Linked DNA regions of Homo sapiens: region 2 is linked to region 1. The links come from fine-mapping of genetic effects on gene expression. A gene starts in region 1. The other region holds a variant in brackets. All regions are shown on one strand. Distances are from middle to middle. Region 1 holds the start of TICAM1 (TIR domain containing adaptor molecule 1). Region 2 overlaps SAFB2 (scaffold attachment factor B2).

The links. PIP is the estimated chance that this variant, and not a neighbour inherited with it, causes the effect.
Region 2: its variant is fine-mapped to the expression of TICAM1 in left ventricle (GTEx, PIP 0.97).

What each region holds. Positions count from the first base shown.
Region 1 is chr19:4,825,864-4,838,027 of GRCh38, reverse strand. It overlaps TICAM1 (TIR domain containing adaptor molecule 1), which reads left to right and starts at 6,316. Exons shown (of 2, transcript NM_182919.4): 1 at 6,316-6,414. RefSeq lists silencers at 6,180-6,469, 6,480-6,599.
Region 2 is chr19:5,605,481-5,617,644 of GRCh38, reverse strand. SAFB2 (scaffold attachment factor B2) reads left to right here. Exons shown (of 21, transcript NM_014649.3): 3 at 1,159-1,223; 4 at 1,310-1,513; 5 at 4,118-4,180; 6 at 5,078-5,105; 7 at 6,015-6,525; 8 at 6,957-7,006; 9 at 7,550-7,650. Among named protein-coding and RNA genes, the nearest start is that of SAFB2, 11 kb to the left of the region's middle. RefSeq lists enhancers at 494-663, 4,636-5,835. The variant G/A (reference allele first, on the strand shown) is at 5,535.

The DNA of each region.
Region 1 (12,164 bases):
GAGGCCGAGGTGGGAGGATCACTTGAGGCCAGGAGTTTGAGACTGGCCTGGGCAACATAGCAAGACCCCATCTCTACACAAATTTTTTTTTTTTAAGTTAGCCAGGCATGGTAAGGTGGGAGGGTCACTTGAGCCCAGGAGTTTGAGACTGCAGTGAGCCAAGATCGCACTACTGCACTCCAGCCTGGGCAACAGAGCAAGATACCATCTCGGAAAAAAATCCAAGTGACAATCTACAGTGTTTCTCTACGGTAGCTACAGAGAAGGGGAACTTCAGGGACTTCTCCCAGGGACATGGAGAAGATACATTCTCAGTCTTACTAAATACTGCTGGACTGTTGCCCAAATCATTGTCAGTCTTTTCACTCCCACCCTAAGTCCTGAGAGGGTTCATTTCCCCCATCACCAACCACATGTTACTTTCTCTTTGTTAATCCATATTCAAGTTGAATTCATATGCACCCAAGTATATGAATCTTAAAGGGACAGTTCAATGAATGTTACATAGGAATCCACTCCCTATAACCAACAGCCACAGGGATTACTGGTGCGTGCCCCACCATGCCCGGCTAATTTTTGAATTTTACTAGAGACGGGGTTTTGCCATATTGGCCAGGCTGGCTTTGAACTCCTGACCTCAAGTGATCTGCCCGCCTCGGCCTCCCAAAGTGCTGGATTACAGGCGTGAGCCACTATGCCAGCCTTTTTTTTTTTTTTTTTCGCTCTTTTTTGAGACAGAGTTGTACTCTGTTGCCCAGGCTGGGGTGCAGTGGTACTATCTCAGCTCACCGCAACCTCCACCTCCCAGGTTCGAGTGGTTTTCCCGCCTCAGCCTCCCGAGTAGCTGGGATTACAGGCGTGCACCACCACGCCCGGCTAAGGCTGGAGTACAGTGGCACGATCTCGGCTCACCGCAAGCTCCACCTCCTGGGTTCACGCCATTCTCCTGCCTCAGCCTCCCGAGTAGCCGGGACTACAGGTGCCTGCCACTACAACCGGCTAATTTTTTGTATTTTTAGTAGAGACAGGGTTTCACCGTGTTAGCCAGGATGTAATTTTGTATTTTTAGTAGAGATGGGGTTTCACCATGTTAGCCAGGCTGGTCTCAAACTCCTGACCTCAAGTGATCTGCCCACCTCGGCCTCCCAAAGTACTGAGGTTACAGGTGTGAGCCACCACATCTGGCCCCACCTCATCCTCTTGAGTATCTGGGAACTACAGGCGTGCACCACCACACTCAGCTAAATTATACACACACACACACACACACACACACACACACACAGATGTGGGTCTTGCTATGTTGCCTAGGCTGGTCTCAAACTCCTGGGCTCAAGCGACCTCCCACTCAACCTCCCAAAGCACTGGGATTACAGGTGAGAGTCACTGCACCTGGCTCTCACCCGATCTTTTTCCCAATCCCATCAGATAGATGCTATTATCTCCAGGGAAAATGAGGTGTAATCCAGAGAGCCCACCCTCAGCCCCACCTCAGCTACTAATAGCTGAGTAGTAATTTGAACTCAGGCCAGGCATGGTGCCTCACGCCTGTAATCTCAGCACTTTGGGAGGCCAAGGTGGGCAGGTCACTTGAGGTCAGGAGTTCGAGACCAGGCTGGCCAACATGGTGAAATCCCCCTCTCTATTAAAAATACAAAAATTAGCTGGGTGTGGTGGCACACACCTGTAATCCCAGCTACTGGGGAGTCTGAGGCACAAGAATCACTTAGCCCAGGATGCAAAGGTTGCAGTGAACCAAGATCACGCCACTGCACTCCAGCCTGGGCAACAGAGCGAGACTCTGTCTCAAAAAAAAAAAAAAAATTGGACTCAAAGAGTCAAGTTCTCTCCACGGTGCTTATAACCACCACATTTTAAGGTAGCAATGCCTGTTTTGGAATATCATACATGACACATATGTTGACTTGTGAAAGTGTCAAAGATATATTGACAATGGAATACAGTAAATTTTTTTTTTTTTGAGACGGAGTCTCGCTCTGTAGCCCAGGCTGGAGTGCAGTGGCGCGATCTCAGCTCACTGCAAGCCGCACCACCTCACAGGTTCACACCATTCTCCTGCCTCAGCCTCCTGAGTAACTGGGACTTCAGGCACCTGCCACCATGCCCGGCTAATTTTTTGTACTTTTAGTAGAGACGGGGTTTCACCGCTTTAGCCAGGATGGTTTCGATCTCCTGACACTGTGATCCGCCCGCCTCGGCCTCCCAAAGTGCTGGGATTATAGGCGTGAACCACCACGCCCAGCCGAAAGTATTTATTGTCTGGTCCTTTACAACAAACAGTTTGCTGAACTCTGGCCTATGCGAATTAAAAAGGAAAATCAGATCGAAGAATATTCAGTATCATGATCACGGATCTGTGGATATGTGTGCAAAAGTGGAAAACAGAGGCCGGGCATGGTGGCTCATGCCTGTAATCCCAGCACTTTGGGAGGCTGAGGCAGGCAGATCACTTGAGGCCAGGAGTTCGAGACCAGCCTGGCCAACATGGTGAAACCCCATCTCTACTAAAAATACAAAAATTAGCTGGGCGTGGTGGCGCACAGCTGTAATCCCAGCTATTCAGGAGGCTGAAGTAGGAGAATCGCTTGAACCCAGGAGGAGGAGGTTGCAGTGAGCCAAGATCGTGCCACTGCACTCCAGCCTGGGCGACAGAGCGAGACTCTGACTCCAAAAAGAAAAAAAAAAAAGTGGAAAACAGAATGGATGGGCTTGTGGGTGGAGGCTTCTAGGGGAGGTGGTGGAGAGGGAAAGTAAAAAAAAAACTTGGACTTTTACTGGAATATTATCTTTCTTTCTTTTTTTTTTTTATATTTTTTCTTTGAGATAGGGTTTCTCTCTGTTGCCCAGGCTGGAGTGCAGTGGTGCGATCATAGCTCACTACAGTCTCAACCTCTTGGGCTCTGGTGGTCCTCCCATCTCAGCCTCCCAGGTAGCTGGGACTACAGGCACGTGCTGCCATGCCTCATTTTTTCTTTCTTTCTTTTTTTTTTTTTTTTTGAGATGGAGTCTCGCTGTGTCGCCCAGGCTGGAGTTCAGTGGCGTGATCTCGGCTCTCTGCAAGCTCCACCTCCCGGGTTCATACCATTCTCCTGCCTCAGCCTCCTGAGTAGCTGGGACTACAGGTGCCCGCCACCACGCCCGGCTAATTTTTTTGTATTTTTAGTAGAGACAGGGGTTTCACCGTGTTAGCCAGGATGGTCTTGATCTCCTGACCTCATGATCCACCTGCCTCGGCCTCCCAAAGTGCTGGGATTGCAGGCGTGAGCCACTGCACCCGGCCCTCATTTTTTCTTTATTTTTAATTTTTGTAGAGATGGGATCTCACTGTGTTGCCAGGGCTAGTCTTGAACGCCTGGGCTCAAGCAATCCTCCCGCCTCAGCCTCCCAAAGTGCTAGGATTACAGGCATGAGCCACCGCACCCGGCCTGTTTCTTTCACTGAAGAAGAGAGGGGGCAACTGCACCTCTCTGCAAGTGGCCAAATTCACCCATCTGCAGCCCTGGAATTCTGAATTCTTCAGCCATTACCTTCTCTGAGCCTGTTCTCTCATCTGTAAAATGGGAACCATCAAACCCATTTTGATGGAGAAACGGTTGTTTTAAGACATTGATCAAGCCAGGCATGGTGGCTCACGCCTGTAATTCCAACACCTTGGGAAGCCAAGGCAGGAGGATTGCTTGAGGCCAGGAGTTTGAAACCAGCCTGGTCAACATAGAAAGACATCATCTCTACAAAAGAAAAAAAAAATTACATTAGCCAGGCATGGTGGCATGCACCTGCAGTCCCAGCTACTTGGGAGGCTGAGGTGGGAGGATCGCTTGAGACCAGGAGGTCAAGGCTACAGTGATTAGTGATCACACCACTACACTCCAGCCTGGGTGGCAGATTAAGACCCTGTCTCAAAAAAAAAAAAAAAAAAAAAAAAAGGACATTGATCAGTTGACCAGCAAAGCCCAGTCACGGTGATTCATGTCTGTAATCCCACCACTTTGGGAGGCCAAATTGGGACAATCTCTTAAAGCTAGGAGTCGGGGACCAGTCTGGGTAACATAGTGAGACCCTGTCTCTAAAAGAAAAATGTAAAAAATAATTCAACACAGTGTTGCGTGCCTGTAGTCCCAGCTACTTGGGAGGCTCAGGCAGGAGGATCGCTTGAGGCCCAGAATTGGAGGCTGCTTTGAGCTATGATGGCGCCACTCCACTCCGGCCTGTGCGACAGAGTGAAATCCCATCTCTAAAAAAAAAAAAAAAGCCGGGTGCAGTGGCTCACGCCTGTAATCCCAGCACTTTGGGAGGCTGAGCGGGTGGATCACGAGGTTAAGAGATCGAGACCATCCTTGCCAACATGGTGAAACTCCATCTCTACTAAAAATACAAAAATTAGCCAGGCATGGGGGCATGCACCTGTAGTCCCAGCTACTCGGGAGGCTGAGGCAGGAGGATCGCTTGAACCCGGGAGGCTGAGGTTGCAGTGAGCCGAGATTGCACCACTGCACTCCAGCCTGGTGACTGAGTGAGATTCTGTCTCAAAAAAAAAAAAAAAAAAAAAGTCTGGGCACAGTTTTGCATGGGTACAAGCACCTATGAGACACTCCTTGAATTGGTAATTTTGGGGTGGGAGACAGAGAGGCCAGGAGGATGTGTTTAACTTTCTCTCCCCCACCAGCCCTGGAGACCCTGAAGGGTAAGACCATTTCTGTCTTCCCCGCTACTGTATTCCCAGAGCCTAGACGTTCCTGGAACACAGTCAGTGCTCAATAAAATTTCTCCCTCACTGGAGAGAAGTACTCAATAAGGGGAACTGTGGGGGATTTGACATCAACATAACTTCCATTGCTATCTCCCTACAAGAACTTTTAGGTGAACTTCAGCCTGGGGTCCCTGAGCCTCTTAGGGGTGTTCAGGGTGTCTGTGAATTCTGATGGAGGAAAAAAATTTCACATCTTTATTTTCACTGACTCTAACTGATAATTACCATTCCCTCAATTATTAATGAAGACAACCACAGGACCTGGGACTTTGTCCGTTTGTCCCTAATAAAAACCACAGATACTTTCAGATTGCATTGCAACCAGAAACACATCTGACACTTGTCACCACGGCAAAATCACTGTGATTATTAGATCTTATTTAATGTGGTGATAAAAATAATATAGGCCAGGTGCGGTGGCTCACACCTGTAATCCTAGCACTTTGAGAGGCCGAGGCGGGAGGATTGCTTGAGCCTGGAAGTTTGAAAGCAGCCTGGGTAATATAGGGAGACCCCGTTTCAAATAATAATAATTATTATAATCATAAAATTAGGCCGGGCGCAGCGGCTCACGCCTGTAATCCCAGCACTTTGGGAGGCCGAGGCGGGCAGATCACCTGAGGTCAAGAGTTCGAGACCAGCCTGGCCAACATGGTGAAACCCCATCTCAACTAAAAATACAAAAATTAGCCAGGTGTGGTGGCACGTGCCTGTAATCCCAGCTACTCAGGAGGCTGAGGCAGGAGAATCGCTTGAACCCATGAGGTGGAGGTTGCAGTGAGCCGAGGTCGCACTACCGCACTCCAGCCTAGGCCACAGAGTAAGACTCCAACTAAAAAAAAAAAAAAAAAAAAGGGAGGCCGGACACGGTGGCTCACACCTGTAATCCCAGCACTTTGGGAGGCCAAGGCAGGTGGATCACCTGAAGTTGGGAGTTCGAGACCACGCTGACCAAGGTGGAGAAACTCCATCTCTACTAAAAATACAAAATTAGCCAGGTGTGGTGGCACATGCCTGTAATCCCAGTTACTCAGGAAGCTGAGGCAGTAGAATTGCTTGGACCCGGGAGGCGGAGGTTGCAGTGAGCTGAGATTGCGCCATTGCACTCCAGCCTGGGCAACAAGAGCGAAACTCCGTCTCGGAAAATAAATAAAAAAATAAATAAACAAACAAACAAATAAAATAAGAGAAATAAAATAAAAACAGCTGCTACATTTATTTCCTGGAAAGCACCTATCACTAACGGAGATGATCCCACTTTACAATTGTGATTACTTTCTCATCTGGGACCCCCGCCCAGATGACTGTGGGCTCCCCGAGAGCAGATGCGAGTTCTTCTGGCCCCCTGCAGACAGTAGGTGCTCACACTTGCTGAACGTGACCGCAAGGGTTGGGAAGAGAGCGCATGGGTGCGGGGCGACCCGGGGACTTTCCCGGTGCTGCGGGGCAGGACTCCGAAACCGTGACCTCACGTCCCACACCCACCCGGGACGCGGAAGGGGCGGCGCGCTTCCTTCCCAGGGCGCGGGCCGCGGGGTGGAGCCAGCGCCCTCAGCGCGCTACGGTCCGCGGGCAACTCCGCAGAAGCCCCAGCCCCCAGGACCCCAGGACCCAGTGGCGCAGCCGGCAGCCCCGGATCCCTGGTAGGTGGGGAAGGGGCGAGGACGGGCCTGAGGTGGAGAAGGTGTCGGGGGTGTGGGGGGTGGCCCTGAGCCCGTGCCGCTCGCCAGGGCTCCAGGCCACCTGGCCTCCCTCTTAGGGCCCCGGTGCGGAGGAGGGGGCCTGGCGCCGCGCGTTGGGAGGTTGACGTTCCCCTCAACCTCCAGCTCCCCGCGCTGGTGGCCCAGATCCTCCCCCACTGTCGGGATCCTCCCCAGCACCCTGGCTTCCTCCCCGACAGCCTGACCCCTCCCCCAAACCCCAGATTCCTCCCGGACACCCCAGATTCCTCCCCAACACCCAGGATTCCTACCTGAAACCCCATATTCCTTCTCACCCCAAATTCCTGACACCCAAGCTTCCTACCTCACACCCCATATTTCTCTCAACGCCCTGAATTTCTCCCTGACACCCAAGGTCCCTCCCTGATACCCCAAATTCCTCCGTGACACCCAGGACCCCTCTCTGACACCCTGGATTCTTCCCCAACACCCAGGATCCCTCCCGAATACCCCAGATTCCTCCCAGACACCCCAAATTCCTCCCTGACACCCCAAACTCTTCCCTGACACCCAGGATCCCAACCTCACACCCTGTACCACCACACACCTTCTTCCTTTCTCCCCCTCCTAACGGTTATCCAGCCACATGGGCTTCCTTACTGTTCCTCCAGCTCACCAGGCGCAGTCCTGCCCCAGGGCCTTTGGGCAGGTGGCTTCACCTTCCAGAAGCTTTCCTCCCTGATCTCCACCCAGCCTCCTCCCTCAGCTCCTTTAGGTCTCAGCTCAATGTTACCTCCTGTCCCCAAAGGCCTCCCTTGACCACCGTGGTCCCCTGTAGCCCCTTCCCAGCCAGTCTCTCAGAGCCACACAGCCCCCGGCTCATGGCTTTCACGTTACTTTTCATTCTCTGAAATGATCTTGGGTTATTTTCTCGCTTACTGTTGGTCTCCCTGAACCAGACTGGGAGCTCTGTGAGGGTAGATGTGCCTGCCTTGATATGCAGTGGCACTTTGAACAGTTCCTGGACCTAGTAGGTGCTCAATAAATGCATATTCGATGCATGAAAGGCTGCATGAGAGTGTGGGAAGGAGAGTGGGAGAGGTGGTTAAAACATTTAAAAAGGACAAGGTGGGAGGATCACTTGAGCCCAGGAGTTCAAGACAAGCCTGGGCAGCATAGCGAGACTCCACCTCTACAAAAAAATTCAAAAAGAAAGTTAGCCGGGTGCAGTGGTTTATGCCTGTAATCCCAACACTTTGGGAGGCTGAGGCAGGTGGATTGCTTGAGCCCAGGATCCTGGGTAACATGGGTGAGACTCTGTCTCTACCAAAAATACAAAAATTAGCCAGGTGTGGTGCCGCACACCTGTAGTCCCAGCTACTCGGGAGGCTGAGGTGGGAGGATCACTTGAACCCGGGAGTTCAAGGCTGCAGTGAGCCGTGATCCCACTACTGCACTCCAGCCTGGGTGACAGAGTGAGACCCTGTCTCTAAAAAAAATGAAATGGGGCTGGGCAGGTGGCTCACGCCTGTAATCCCAGGCAGATCACCTGAGGTCAGGAGTTTGAGACCAGCCTGACCAACATGGCGAAACCCTGTCTCTACTAAAAATACAAAAATTAGCGGGGCGTGGTGGTGCATGCCTGTAATCCCAGCCACTCAGGAGGATGAGGCAGGAGAATCACTTGAACCCAAGAGGCGGAGGTTGCAGTGAGCCCAGACCACGCCACTGCACTCCAGCCTGGGCGACACAGCAAGACTCTGTGTCAAAAAAAAAAAAAAAAAAAAAAAGAAATGAAATTAAAAATCAAAAATTTTTTTAAAAAGGAAGAGGAAGAGAAAAAGTCTGCCAATATTTATTGTCACACTAATATTATTATATCAAGCTCTTGCTCCTTGCTGGGCACTGATCTAAACTTTTTAACCATATTTTCGCATGAAAGCTTCAAAACAGACTCCCATTCATCCTAAGTACCAGTTCATGTGGGTGTTATAAATGAGGAAGCTGAGGCTGAGAAACAGACCACACAAGCCGGCAGGTGGCAGAGCCAGAACCCTCCTACCCCATGGGTGTTTTTGTCCCGCCAGGCGCCTGCTCTTCAGAGTGAGGAGTGGACTTTGTCCCAGCCATGGACAGTGAGAAATGAAACTTGCTGGGTCTCGAGAAGGTGGAGGTGGCAGTGGGCAGGGGAGGCGGGCGGGGGAAGCTGGGGCAGTCACTGAAATAGAGTTGAGTTCAGGCCCGGGGGGGCAGAGAGAATGAGAAGAAAGACCACGTGATTTTAGAGATTTGCCAGGCATTCAGGTGGAGATGGTCCTGCCTTGATGATTCTAAGTCTGGCTGGCTTTGTCGTGTTTTCTGCAAAACTCCCCTGAGTCCTTCTTGCAAGGAGGTTTCAGTCTTGCATGCTAATGTTTGTGGGGCATGCGTGTGCCAGGCACTGCTTTAAGAGTCCTATACAGGCCGGGCGCAGTGGCTCATGCCTGTAATCCCAGCACTCTGGGAGGCCAAGGCAGGCGGATCGATTGAGGTCAGGAGTTCGAGACCAGCCTGGCCAACAGCCTGAAACCCTGTCTCTACTAAAATTACAAAAACTAGCAGGGCGTGGTGGCTAACGCCTGTAATCCCAGAATTTTGGAGGCCAAGGCAGGCGGATCACGAGATCAAGAGATTGAGACCATCCTGGCCAACATGGTGAAACCCCGTCCCTACTAAAAATACAAAAATTACCTGGGCATGGTGGCATGCACCTGTAGTCCCAGCTACTCGGGAGGGTGAGGCAGGAGAATTGCTTGAACCCAGGAGGTGGAGGTTGCAGTGAGCCGAGATCGCGCCACTGCACTCCAGCCTGGCGACAGAGGGAGATTCGGTCTCAGAAAAAAAAAAAAAAAAAGATTATCTGGGCGTGGTGGCAGGCTCCTGTAATCCCAGCTACTCAGGAGAGTGAGGCACAAGAATCACTTGAGCCCAGGATGCGGAGGCTGTAGTGAGCCTAGATCGCACCACTGCACTCCAGCCTGGGCGACAAAGTGGGACTCCGTCTCAAAAAATATATATATGTATATATATTTTACTGACATGTAGGCTGGGTGCAGTGGCTCATACCTGTAATCCCAGCACTTTGGGAGGCCAAGGTGGGAGGATCGCTTGGGCCCAGGAGTTCCAGACCCCGTCCCTACAAAACATTAATAATTAGCTGGGCATGGTGGCATGTGCCTGTAGTCCCAGCTACTTGGGAGGCTGAGTGGGAGGATCACTTCTTAATCCCAGGAGGTTGAGGCTGCAGTGAGCTATGATCACACCACTGCACTCCAGCCTGGGTAACAGAGCAAGATCCTGTCAAAAAACAACAACACAGGAGGCTGAGGCAGGAGAACGGTGGGAACCCGGGAGGCAGAACTTGTAGTGAGCCGAGATCGCGCCACTGCACTCCAGCCTGGGAGACAGACCGAGACTCCGTCTCAAAAAAAATAAAAAAAACAAAAAAGAGTGTGAATTCTAAGTGTTAAACTCAATGAATTTTCAGCATGACGCCCAGCCCCACTGCTACCCTGTCCCAGCATGGCCCTTCTCCACACTTTATCATCTATGCCCTCTTATCAGCTAAAAATTGGAGGGTACGTGCCAATGTATGTTTGCTTTTTGCTTGGTAAGTTATACACACAACCGTTCCCAGGAAACACCGGGAGGTGGGAAGAGCAGTTGATTCGTGGATCATCGAACTTAACGGGGGGTGGGGGTATTGGACCGTATTCCAAGTAGTTGTCTTGATCATTTCAAAAAGTTTTGGCCGACTTGTGGTCCCACCTGAATATAGGATCTTTTTTTTTTTTTTTTTGAGATGGAGTCTCACTCTGTCACCCAGGCTGGAGTGCAGTGGCACCAACTCGGCTCGCTGCAAGCTCCGCCTCCCAGGTTCACACCATTCTCCTGCCTCAGCCTTCCGAGTAGCTGGGAGTACAGGTGCCCGCCACCACACCTGGCTAATTTTTTGTATTTTTAGTAGAGACGGGGTTTCACCGTGTTAGCCAGCACGGTCTCGATCTCCTGACCTCGTGATCTGCCCGCCTCGGCCTCCCAAAGTGCTGCTGGGATTACAGGCGTGAGCCACCGCGCCCAGCCCATTTTCATTTTTATCCCATTTTATGTAGAGCTTACAACAGAGATAGAAGCTGGGCATCTGGCCTTTTTCTTTTTTTTTTTTTTTTTTTTTTTTTTTTTTTGGAGACAGAGTTTCACTCTTGTAGCCTAGGCTGGAGTGCAATGGCATGATCTCAGCTCACCGCAACCTCCGCCTCCCGGGTTCAACCTCCACCTCCCGGGTTCAAGCGATTCTCCTGCCTCAGCCTCCCGAATAGCTGGGATTACAGGCTTGCGCCACCATGCCCGGCTAATTTTTGTATTTTTAGTACAGACGGGGTTTCACCATGTTGGCCAGGCTAGCCTCGAACTCCTCACCTCAGGCAATCCACCCGCCTCGGCCTCTCAAAGTGCTGGGATTACAGGCGTGAGCCACTGCGCCCGGCCGTCTGGCCTTTTTCTTATTGTCCGATTGTGCCTGCATTATTTTATTATTATTATTATTATTATTTCCTAAGATTATTAGGAAAAACCTTTTATCCTCCACTTCTCTAGAGGAGTACTTAGGCCATATGCTTATTTCCTGAACATTAGTTTAATTAAAACTAGGTGAGGCTGTTTCTCAGGCCCCATAACCAGGTCCACATAAGCTGGAGTCTGTGTTAAATCTGAAAATGTTAAAAGGAGCCAAAAAGCTCAGTGGATTCTAGAACCAGACAGCCTGGGTTCCAATCCAGCTGTATCCCTTATGAGCTGTGTGACTCTGGACTACTTACTCAACTTCTCTGTACCTCTGTTTCCTTGTGTCAAAAAGGGGCCATACTCCAATATTACTGGACTGTAGTGGAGATGTCTAAAACTGTGCTGTCCAACAGAAATATAACATGAAGCAGCCGCGAACAGTGGCTCACGCCTGTAATCCCAGCACTTTGGGAGGCCGAGGCTGGCAGATCACTTGAGGTCAGGAGTTCGAGACCAGCCTGGGCAACATGGTGAAACCCCGTCTCTACTAAAAATACAAAAATTAGCCGGGTATGATGGCGGATGCCTGTAGTCCCAGCTACCCGGAAGGCTGAGGCAAGAGAATCGCTTGAACCTGGGAGGCAGAGGTTGCAGTGAGTCGAGATCATGCCATTGCACTCTAGCCTGGAAAATGGAGCAAGACTCCATCTCCAAAATATATAAATAAATAAATAAATATATATATATATCTCCTAATAATACATTTTATTAATCCAATATGTAAATGCATTTAATAATATATTTTATTTAACTCAATATACCCAACATGGTCCAATATAATGTTCCATTACGAATGAGGCATCTTCCATACCTTTTTTATTTTGTTGTTTTTGAGACAGCGTCTCACTCTATTGCCCAGGCTGGAGTGCAGTGGCGCGATCTCCGGTCACTGCAGCCTTGATTCTCCTGGCCTCAGGCGATCCTCTGACCTCAGTCTACCAAGGAGCTGGGGCCACAGGCATGCACCACCACACCCAGCTAATTATTTTTATTTTAATTTTATTTATTTATTTATTTGTTTGTTTCTTTATTTTGAGATGGAGTTTTGCTCTTGTTGCCCAGGCTGGAGTGCAATGGTGTGATCTTGGCTTACTGCAACCTCTGCCTCCTCGGTTCAAGCGATTCTCCTG
Region 2 (12,164 bases), 780 kb before region 1:
GACCACTAACAATGTCTCCAGACATTGCCAGCCATTCCCCCCGGTTGTGAACCATATCTGAATGAAAATATGCTGTAATTTGTTTCCCTTTTGGGTGTTTAACAGGTATAATAGGACAGATATCTATGTTTTGAACTCCTTGTCAGATATCCTAAGACTCAAATTCCTGGAACAAAGGGTATGCACATTTGTAAGGTTTTTGATACATATAGAGCCTCAAGTTTCTTCTCAAGGTTTCCACTCTTGAACTCCTCTGGCCTCCTTTTGCAATTCCTAGCAGAATTCTATCAAATAGTTATTTTGTGGTCACAAAACCCAGGATGATTCTCGACTTTATGGCAGCCTTTGCCTTTTTGCCTTGGGGGAAAAAAAAAAGTTCTTGAGCTAAAAAATGACAAAGACCTACTTGAAATGGGTGGAATATAGGGAGAGCCAGCAAATCACTAACTCAATATGTTATTTTATGTTGCAGTTCTTTGGTTACTAGATGGGTATTGCATTTTTTTGTTGGTTTGTTGAAAATGCCTGTTTTTATCCTTTGCTCATTTTTTTGTGATTTTTTTTCTTAGGTTTGGAGTGTTTTTGAAATATTTGGAAACTTTTAGATATTTTGTGGAAAATCAGAGTACTCTGAATCTAAGAGGAATCCTAGATTTTCATCTCCCTGTTGATGGCTTACTTAGAACACCAATTGAGGCCGGGCACCATGGCTCATGCCTGTAATCCCAGCACTTTGGGAGACCGAGGCTGGTGGATCACGAGGTCAGGAGTTTGAGACCAGCCTGGCCAATATGGTGAAACCCCATCTCTACTAAAAATACAAAAATAAGCTGGGCATGGTGATGCACGCCTGTAGTCCCAGCTGCTGAGGAGGCTGAGGCAGGAGAATCGCTTGAACCCAGGAGGTGGAGATTGCAGTGAGCCGAGATTGTGCCGCTGCACTCCAGCCTGGGTGACACAGGGAGACTCCATCTCAAAAAAAAAAAAAAAAAAAAAAAAAAGAAAACAAATTGAGACAAAATTACGTGTGACAGGAGAGGGGAGACTTATAGTTTATCTTGTAATGTGTTCTGTTCTAAGATTGAAATCTATTCTGCATAAACTAATTATGAGGTAGAACTTGAGTGTTATCTGATTGAACAATTATTCTGTAATTAGGACTGAAGATGGAGGAGGAAGGCACAGAAGATAATGGCCTGGAAGACGATTCCAGAGACGGGCAGGTAAGTGATGTCAGGGTAGAGATGACAAGCAGCAGCTCCCTGTCCTGGTCCAGGTGGTCGTTAACGATTCTTCTTCCTCTTTACAGGAGGACATGGAAGCAAGTCTGGAGAACCTGCAGAATATGGGCATGATGGACATGAGTGTGCTAGACGAAACTGAAGTGGCGAATAGCAGTGCTCCAGATTTTGGGGAGGATGGCACGGACGGCCTTCTCGATTCCTTTTGTGATAGTAAAGAATACGTGGCTGCACAGCTGAGACAGCTCCCGGCTCAGCCCCCAGAGCATGCTGTAGGTAACTTGGAGACACGGCAGGATGTGCCCATAGCCCCGAGGCACCTGGTGCTCGCGTGCTGCTCGTGTGAGGGAGAACACAGCTAAACCGCCATGAACACACAGTTCTGCTTCTACACCCTGGTGTTAAACCATGTCCATTTAAACGCTGTGTAGCTCAGGGATTTACTCATAGATAGCTTTTCTGTAGCACTGGGGAGTGTTTTTATAATTCGAAGCATGTGGTGAGTCATAAAATAGAAAGCTCTGACATAAAAGATTTTTCTTTTCTGAGATGAGGTCTCAACTGTTACCCAGGCCGGTCTTGAACTCTTGGGCTCCAGCGATCCTCCTGACTACCTGGGCTTATTGGCACAGGCCACAGTGCCCATTTAGTTTTTTCCTTTTAAAATACAGTTTTAAGAAGCAAAGATGGTTTATTTATTTAGAGACAGGGTCTTGCTCTGTTGTGCAGGCTGGAGTGCAGTGGGGTCATCATAATTCACTGCAGCCTCAGCCTCCCAGGTTCAAGCAATCCCCCTGCATAACTGAGACTACACAGTGAACCACCACGCCCAGCTAATTAAAAAAAAATTTTTTTTTTTTTAGAGGCGGGATCTCACTAGGTTACCCAGGTTGATCTTGAACCCCTGAGCTCAAGCAATCCTCCCGCCTCAGCCTCCCAGAGTGCTGGGATTATAGGTGTGGTCCACCGTGCCCAGCTCAAAAATGGTTTCTAATCTCATCATGTAGATATTCCTCCTAATGTTGTGTTTTGTTTGTTTGTTTGTTTTTGAGACAGAGTCTCTCTCAGTCACCCAGGCTGGAGTGCAGTGGCAAGATTATGGCTCACTGCAACCTCCGCCTCCCTGATTCAAGCAATTCTCCTGCCTCAGCCTCCTGAGGAGCTGGGACCAGAGGCATGCGCCACCACGCCCAGCTGATTTTTTTATATTTTTAGTAGAGATGGGGTTTCACCATGTTGGCCATGATGGTCTCCATCTCCTGACGTCGTGATCTGCCCGCCTTGGCCTCCCAAAGTGCTGGGATTACAGGCTTGAGCCACTGCGCCCAGCCACTTGACTAATTTTTTATATTTTTGGTAGAGATAGGGTTTCATCATGTTGGCTGAGCTGGTCTCGAACTCCTGACCTCAAGTGATCTGCCTGCCTCGGCCTCCCAAAGTGCTGGGATTATAGTGGTGAGTCACCACGCCTAGCCTGTTAATGTTGTTTTAAGCAAGGTTAAGCAGTTACATTAAAAGATGTAAAGTACAGTGAAGACAAGTATCAACCCTGCTCCCCAAAAGGACTGACTGTGAGCATCCTTGTATGTAAAGGAGGAACTTTGCTCTGTTAGGGCTTTCCCAGCTTTTCACTTCTAGTGTTTTGGCGTAGAGCTCTCTGGTGAGGCTGTTCAAATATCACAAGCTGTCAGTGTCTTCGAGCTGATCTTCATTGTACTCTGACTGATGTCACGTGCCCAGTAGGTTGTTTTGTTTCCTTAAGGCATTGCAGCTTTCAGCTTGGGGGTGGAAATGCCTCCATAGGACTGAACCTTAAACCTTACGGTCAAAAGTCATTGCCTCCAAATTTACCATCCTTTGACCTAGGGCAGCACTGAGCAACTGGTTAGCCGCCTTTCTCAGTCTGGTACTGCTGTGTGCTTATTGTTTTCAGAGTGTGTACTTCTCAGTTAATGGAGGCATCCCAGGTCATGAGTTCAAATCGAGAAAAGGAAAAAAGAAAATATTTGGGAGTGCTGTTTTTGTAGTTCACTTAAAAAGAGCTTCAGATTTAGTAAAACTTGGTGTTAACAGTTTTTCTTTTGTTTGGCATGTAGTAAAGAGAGAAATTGACCAAGTTAGATGTTTGTTTTTAATAAAGTAGGCTAGGCGGGCCAGGCGCGGTGGCTCACACCTGTAATCCCAACACTCCGGGAGGCTGAGGTGGGCGGATCACCTGAGGTCAGGAGTTCAAGACCAGCCTGGACATGGTGAAACCCCGTCTCTACTAAAACATACAAAAAATTAGCCGGGCGTGGTGGTGCATGCCTGTAATCCTAGCTCCTCGGGAGGCTGAGGCAGGAGAATTGCTTGAACCCAGGAGGTGGAGGTTGCAATGAGCCGAGATGGCGCCATTGCACTCCAGCCTGGGCAAAAGGAGTGACACTCCGTCTCAAATGAATGAGTGAATGAATGAATGAATAAAGTAGGCTAGGAGAAAGTGCCCGGTTAGTGTTACCTTAAGAGTATTGCTACCAGGTGAAATTGGAGGGGTGCATTTTATCATTTTGAGTTCTGCTTTGGAAATCCTGTGATTGGAGGGGTATGTGGTAATCACCAGTACTTAGAAACTGCCTGGGAAATTCATTCGTTCATTCACCCAGTACAGACAGGGCATACCCACCTGCAGGCCACTGCCAGAGACGCTGGTGGAGCAGAGTCGTGGAGTGTGTGTTCTGGCGGAGAGGCAGGTGCTGAACTGAATGACCCAACAGTAGACTTGCAGATGGCAAAAGGTGCCGTGAGGGAAATAGACACACAAGTTGCCTAAGCGAGGTGTCAGCCTTGGTTTTCATAGCTCCAGCCTCCACGAAGTCATCTTCCATTTTGTTTTTCAGGTGGATGGGGAAGGATTTAAGAACACTTTGGAAACTTCATCGTTGAACTTCAAAGTAACTCCGGTAAGTTACCATCTGGTTCTGCATCGCTGGAAATGTTAATCGAGTGGTTGATTTTCCATAATGAAAGAGCAGTGTGTATGTGTATGGAAATGACTGGATACTGTGCTGGATGCTGGGGTTAAGAGGTTAGCAGAAGAGAAACAGTCTCAGGGCTGGCCATCTAGCAGGGGCAGTGGGATCAAACCAAATATGTAACCAGAAGGGAGAAAGAAGTGTGATGAGGGAGCAGTTCTGGTGGTTGGACTTCATAAGTGCCTGGAACTCTTCCCAGAGGTCTGACGGATAGGTTGAAGAGGGAAAGAAGAATTTGGAGCAGAAAGTTTGGGTGGTGTCTCTGATGCAAAAGAGAGAGGGGAGCACACAGGGTTGGATAGAAGCCAGAGGTGTTGCAGAGCAGCTGGGCCCGCCTCGCTGAGTCTGGGCCACCAGAAGGATTGGACCTATTGTCCTAAGTGAGACAGATGTCGGAAAAGGTTTTCAGCAGAGTAGAGAGATCATTTTGTTATGACAGGTTTCAGTTACAAATCAGTTTATGTTGGGAGAAGTATTTTTTTCTTAAATCCACTGTGACCTCTTCTCTGACAAAGGGGGTGTTTGCCAGCTGCAGCAGCCACTAGGTCAGCTTGGTCATGGGGTGGGTGGCATGGCAGGGCAGGGCCCAAACTCGGGAGAATGGGACAGACTGTTATCACTAGGGACCTGCTGTTACCAGGGAAACTGTTAAAATGAGCTGGTTTTCATCAGGTTATTGTAGGATGGAATACATTTTTTGGAGACAAGAAAGTTTTGTGGAAACAGGCATTTATTCACAGATGATTGAAAGCCATATTTACTGGTGAAATGTATGTGCCCCGTGTTTAAAGTGACTTGTGGATTTGCTTTTTCTTTTTTAAATAGGACATTGAAGAATCCCTTTTGGAGCCAGGTACTGATAAGAGAAACACGACAGTTATGGTTTGAAAGTTTTCACACTATTATTTTAAAGCTGTCTATATTTTAAGCTGTGTTATGATCTTGTAAATTGCTCTAATGGTGGACAATCCAGATCATACAAGGATCAGAGATTGGAAACCCATTCGTATCACCAGATCTGTGGAAGAGCCATTCTGGCTTCTTGAGGTCAAATACATTTGGTGCAATGTAGTAGTGATTCTTTTCATGTCTAACCACGTAGAGTGGCATTTAATTCCCCCGTCCCCGTGATTCCTCCATGTGTTTCTACACATGAAACAGATCTTGTGATATTTTGCTGCAGTCATTTTGATTAACGCAGTTAAGGCAGGATAAAGCTGTTGTCAGGGCACTTACCACCTGAGAAGTGACTGGATTCCAGAAGAGGAAACAGAGTTTCTCC[G/A]TGAAAATTTTCAACATATTATTCCCCTTCCGGACTGCGTTTATCTCCCACCGTCAGAAGAGATTCTGATTTTCATATTGGATTGTTCTGTTAAAAGAAATTCAAAGAAATTTGGAAGTTGAGCTGTCATTGAATGGTGATTGCATTCGGTTCAGCACCTTGGACATTGGAAAATCAGTCAGAAGACCCAGACTTGAACAAAAACTCGAAGAAGACTATTGAGAACCAGCCGCGTGGTTGTAGGTGTTTAAATCTGTGGGGGCCTTTTCTCTTCCGTGTAGCGTAGAGGCTTACCTAGAGGCGGTCGCGGCGCAGGTAGTGTAACCAGTATAACTTTGTGTACCCGCGGGTTTTCCAATCTCTGTGTAGCTAGCAGTTCTCTTCGTGTTAGTGTGGCAGCCGTGCCAGTTCCACATTTGTGATTGCTTTATTTCCCTGGTAATTAAACCTTGTGCCATTCTATTCCTGTTAAATCCGTAGAAAATGAGAAAATACTCGACATTTTGGGGGAAACTTGTAAATCTGAGCCAGTAAAAGAAGAAAGTTCCGAGCTGGAGCAGCCATTTGCACAGGACACAAGTAGCGTGGGGCCAGACAGAAAGCTTGCGGAGGAAGAGGACCTATTTGACAGCGCCCATCCGGAAGAGGGTGATTTAGATTTGGCCAGCGAGTCAACAGCACACGCTCAGTCGAGCAAGGCAGACAGCCTGTTAGCGGTAGTGAAAAGGGAGCCCGCGGAGCAGCCAGGCGATGGCGAGAGGACGGACTGTGAGCCTGTAGGGCTAGAGCCGGCAGTTGAGCAGAGTAGTGCGGCCTCCGAGCTCGCGGAGGCCTCTAGCGAGGAGCTCGCAGAAGCACCCACGGAAGCCCCAAGCCCAGAAGCCAGAGATAGCAAAGAAGACGGGAGGAAGTTTGATTTTGACGCTTGTAATGAAGTCCCTCCGGCTCCTAAAGAGTCCTCAACCAGTGAGGGCGCTGATCAGAAAATGAGGTTTGTTTTTTCTCAGTTTTAGACCAGACGCTATCTCCTTTTCATTGGTCATGTAATGACACACATAAGCTGTTTTTTTCTGCAATTGGCCAGCCAGACTGACGAAATTGTAGTTTTGCTTCTAAAGAATGTTTCGTTTCTCTTTGTGTGTTTTTAATGGGTGATTCAATTCCTTTTCTTTTTCTCAACCTACCATGGTTGTGTTCTTAAATTGTTAATTGTTATCTTCAGCTAAATCGAATTGACTTTTACAAATCTGACATTGTATTTTTGGGGTCAGATTTTCCAATATAAGCTTGCAGAGGTGTCTGTTAAAATTTTATTTCAGACTAATTTTCTGGTAGGTATTCAGTTTTAGCACATAATCATATTTTTAGTTTTGTTCTCTTTCGTTTTTTTCCTGTATGAGTAACATTAACTTTTGTCTCTAGCTCTTTTAAGGAAGAAAAAGATATAAAGCCAATCATTAAAGATGAAAAAGGTATGATTTAATTTAACGTGGTAGGGAGCCAGGTATGGTTCCCTTATTTTGGGAGGAGGGGCCTGGAGATATACACACTTTGGATTCAGTAATTTGTTTTGTTATGGGTTACCGGAATCAACCACCTAATGGTTTCTTGAGAGACTAGTTTTAGAAGTTCGCAAGCACCTGCATTTTATGTTTCTCTTGTGGTTGTCATCTATGGGATGGTGAAAAGCACATTACAAGAAAGGAATAATTCTGCTCATTGAAGACTGTTTCAAGGATTTTAGAGACTGCCGTCTTGGATGAGATCTGATCATCAAAAGACATTTCAGTTCATAACTGACATGGGCATGATTATTCCTTGAGTAAGGAAACTCAGTTTTTGCTGTCCAGATTTTCAGCCTTCTGTGTGTTGGCATGTGTGTGTGCGTTAAATTCTTAAGTCAGCAGTTGGGATTGGGCGTCGTTAGGGTTTTTAAAGAGGGCTGCGGTCTTAAGAATGGTTGTGCTTCCTGTTAGGCCTTGGGGTGATGCCTAAGAATCTCCCTCTCGTGCCAGGTCGGGTCGGCAGCGGTTCTGGTCGGAACCTGTGGGTCAGCGGGCTGTCCTCCACAACACGCGCTACGGATCTCAAGAACCTTTTCAGCAAGTATGGGAAGGTATGCCTTCCCTTGCCTCATACCATCCACTGTGATTCAGAGTTAAAAAGGAAGCTCTGCTGGGCACGGTGGTTCACGTCTATAATCCCAGCAGTTTGGGAGGCTGAGGCAGGAGGATTGCTTGAGCCCAGGAGTTCAAGACCAGCCTGGGCAACATAGCAAGATGTTGTGTTTACTAAAAAATGGAACGACAGCAGCGAAGCTCGCCCAGTCTTGTGCAGTGCACCTTGTTTCCTGACTCACAGTAACTAGGGTGCGGAGCAGGGCAGGTGGTTGGTCATATCACAACAGTGCTCAGAACAGCTGTATAAACAGCTTCTCTCTCAATGTTCTTGGGGTTCTTTCTAACTGGTCTCAAAGAGACTGGTGGTCTTTTGTCTTGTGCAAAACTTAAAGCTTACATGATGAGATTTTTCCCTTAAGAATAATTTGGGAGGCCGAGGCGGGCGTATCACCTAAAGTCAGGAGTTGGAGACCAGCCTGGCCAACATGGCGAAACCCTGTCTCTGCTAAAAATACAAAAATCAGCCAGCCGTGGTGTTCTGTGCCTGTAGTCGCAGCTACTCGGGAAGCTGAGGTGGGAGAATCACTTGAACCCAGGAGGCAGAGGTTGCAGTGAGCCAAGATTGTGCCACTGCACTCCAGCCTGGGTAACAGAGCGAGACTATGTCATAAAAAAAAAAAAAAAAAAAAAGAATGAAGTGAATAATTGACTTTCATATCATTTAGCATTTTAAGTATATAGTCTCATAACTAGAACATGATCGTGGTTCAAAAATAAATCACTAAGATGCTGCTCATGGGGGTGGGAGAAAAATAGTACAATTCAGCAGCTTTCCAAAGGAAGGTGAGGACAATTTAAAATGATTCCACTGTTTGAAATTAATTAAGAGTCTTCTTTTTTTGTTTGTTTGTTGTTCTTTTTTTTTTTTTTTTTTTTTTTGAGACTGCGTCTCGCTCTGTTGCCCAGGCTGAAGTGCAGTGGTGTGATCTTGGCTCACTGCAGCCTCCGCCTCCCTCCCAGGTTCAAGTGATTCTCGTGCCTTAGCTTCTCGAGTAGCTGGGATTACAGGCACCCACCACCATGCCTGGCTAATTTTTGTATTTTCAGTAGAGATGGGGTTTCGCCATGTTGGCCAGACTGGTCTCCAACTCCTGACCTATGTGATCTGCCTGCTTGGCCTCCCAAAATGCTGGGATTACAGGCGTGAGCCACCGCGCCTAGCCAAGAGTCTTCTGGTAAGCAATTGGCACTGCCCTGGTCTCCTGGGTGCCTCTGGGGAGTGGCTTCCAAGGGACAAGGTTCGGACCATTTAGTGTCTGGAGGGTGCCCTGATTCCAGGCAGAGTGGGCCCTGTCTGACACAGTTTTCTGGCTACAGAAGCCGTTCCTTTGTCTAGGTCTGTGTCACCCGATCAGGTGTTGGTTAATGTTTCATTGCTTAAGAAGCGGACAGGACCCGGAGAAAGCGTGCTGTTCAATTTTTCTCTGAACAGTCTGTGTGTTCAGCAAGGGCTTAGGAAATTCTTATAGCCATGAATAACCTGTTTATTCAGTTACTTTGTTGACTTCACTCGGACACTGATGATTAAGCAGAGGTAAACATACGTGGTCACTGTCATCACAGATTTTTTAGTCTGGCGGGAAAAAGACCATTTAAGAAATAAACACATATGATGTGTTGTGATGAGCGTATTAAGGAATATTAGAGCACGCCGTCAGTGTGTTGGGGAGGCCGTGTTTAGATTTGGGAGGCAGCTTCAGCAGAGCTCGCTGAAGAAGTGACATTCAGCTGAGGCGTGAGTGACAGAGTTGGCCTTACCTGTGGGGCTCAGCTCTGGACAAAAACAGAAGGACGTAGGAAGGCCAGAGGGGCAGGACACCACTCAGCTACTTGACTGAAGTATGCAGAGCCTCCAGGGCGGATGGCATAGCTCAGGGATAGGGACATACAAGCTTAGTATGGTGCCTGCTCTCATTTGGGTTTTGTCTGTCATCAGAAGAGATATACTTGTAAGGATGATTAATTTGATGGGAAGGTAGAATGGGAAGTGGCATCTGTGTTTCTCTCAGGAGAGTCTTCTGTCCCTTTGGCCCTGGACAGATTCAGGCAGAGCCTTGACTCCTCCATTTGTGTGGTCAAAACCAAGGACGTCAGATGGGAACCTCAAGCTTGTGGGTTCCACCTTGTCATTTCACAGTTGGGGCCATGAGGTCCAGAGACGGGGAATGCCTTGCTTAGGTTGATGCCCTGAGTCAGAGATAGGGCAGAGACCAGGACTCCTGTGTCCCGGGGAAATGTTTACTCTGCGCGCCAGTGGTGGTGGGCTTGGCGTTAGATCTACTGTCTTGTTCTCTATTTTCTGTTCATGTTTGTTTATTGATCTCTTTTTCCCATTTATCTGCCTTCTTGTGGGTCGAGTCCTTTTTATGACTGATGGCTTATTTGCTCTAACTCTGTGTCATTGTGGTTTACTGTAGGATTACAGTACACATCTTCCCTTACAGTCTGTCTGCAAGGGGTGCTCTGTTGGTTTCAGCGTAGTGCAAGAACTCTGTGGGAATATACTTGCATTTCCCCTCCCGTCGATCTTTGTGATGTTATTGTCATACGGTTTACTTCTCTTTAAGAAGTCACCCAATATTTTATTGGCTTTGACTTGTTGTGGTTTGGCTTTTTTGCTTTGAACAGTTGTGTTTTTTTTTGTTTTTGTTTTTGTTTTTGTTTGTTTTTGAGACGGAGTCTCGCTCTGTCGCCTAGGCTGGAGTGCAGTGGCGCGATCTCGGCTCACTGCAAGCTCTGCCTCCTGGGTTCATGCCATTCTCCTGCCTCAGCCTCCCAAGTAGCTGGAACTACAGGTGCCCGCCACCAGGCCTGGCTAATTTTTTGTATTTTAAGTAGAGATGGGGTTTCACTGTGTTAGTCAGGATGGTCTTGATCTCCTGACCTCGTGATCCTCCCACCTCGGCCTCCCAAAGTGCTGAGATTACAGGCGTGAGCCACCACGCCCAGCCAAACAGTTATATTTTAAAGAGACCCAGAAATGACAGGAAAAAATCATGTTCACCTCACCAGGTGCTCTTCGTTGCTTTTTGTTGTATATCCAAGTTCCCATCGGAGATCATCTTCCTCCCTCCTGAAGGAATTGAATGTTTCCTGTAGTGCAGGTTTGCTGGTGATACGTTCTTGTTTCTTTTGCATGTCAGAAAAAGTCTTTACTTTGTCTTCATTTTGAAATAAATTTTCACTGGGTATAGAATTCTAGGTTAATTTAATCTTTGTTCCTTCAGTTACCAATTTGTGTCTTTTCTCTCTCTTTTTCTGTGGCTGCTTTTAAGTTTCTTCTGGTTTTTTTGTTTTGTTTTGTTTTCCCTTAGAGACAGGATCTCACTGTGTCACCCAGGCTGGAGTACAGTGGTGCTCACTGCAGCCTCGAGCTCCCGGGCTCAAGCGATCCTCTCACCTCAGCCTCCTGAGTAGCTGAGACCACAGGCATGTACCACTACACCCAGCTAATTTTTAAAATTTTTGGTACAGATGTGGTTTCTCTGTGTTGCCCAGGCTGGTTTTGAACACCTGGCCTCAAGTGATCTACCTGCCTTGGCCTCACAAAGTGCTGGGATTACAGGCATGAGCCACTGTGCCCAGCCTGTGCCTGGTAATTTTTTACTGGATGTTGTGAATTGTATTTTTTGGGTGCTAGTTATACTTGTATCTCTACAAATACCCTTGAGCTTTTTTCTGGGACACAGCTGAGGTACTGGACACACACTAAGGCAGGGCCAAAGTAGCCTTCAGTTTGGGCTGATTTTGTCTCACCACTGGGCAGTGCCCTCTGAGTAGTGGGTCTGATGGCCCGTGAATTACCAGCCTTTCCACCCTGGCTATTGGGAAGAGCAAACCATTTGTGGCCCTGAGTGCCCCTCCAGTGGTTGTTCCCTCTGCTCCTGATTGTTCCCTCTGCTCCTTATGGGTGGTGCTGTCCCAGCCTCTGGTTTCCTCGCACACGTGTGCACTGGGTGGGAGGAACCCTCTGTGGGTCTCTTCAGCTTGCTCTGCGTGGCTCTGTGTGGCTGTGTCCTCTCTGATACTCAGTTCCGTGATTTCTCTCTGTCTTGGTCTCAGAATCTCAGTGCTGTCTTACCCATCCCCCATTGCCTGGGAATCTAGGCAGTGAGCAGGGGCAGTCAGGGAGCTCTCAGGGATTGTTGTCTTGGGCAGCCTGATGTCCAGGATCTGAAAACTGTCGTTGCCTACGTTTCATCACATTTGTTAGTTGTTTCAGGCAGGAAGACAATGCTTAGTTCTCCCATCTCAGCCAGAAGTGGAAGTCCTTTCCCCATGGGGACATTTCTGACAGTCCATGTCTGTGTCAGAGCTCTTCTCAGGCCCAGCTGGAGTGGATGGGTGCATTTCTTAGTAGCCCCACAGCTGTTTGTGGGCACAGTGGAAATAGAGAAAACAATGTGGATGGGTAGGACTTCTGGTTATTAGTTGTGAGTAATGAAGTTTA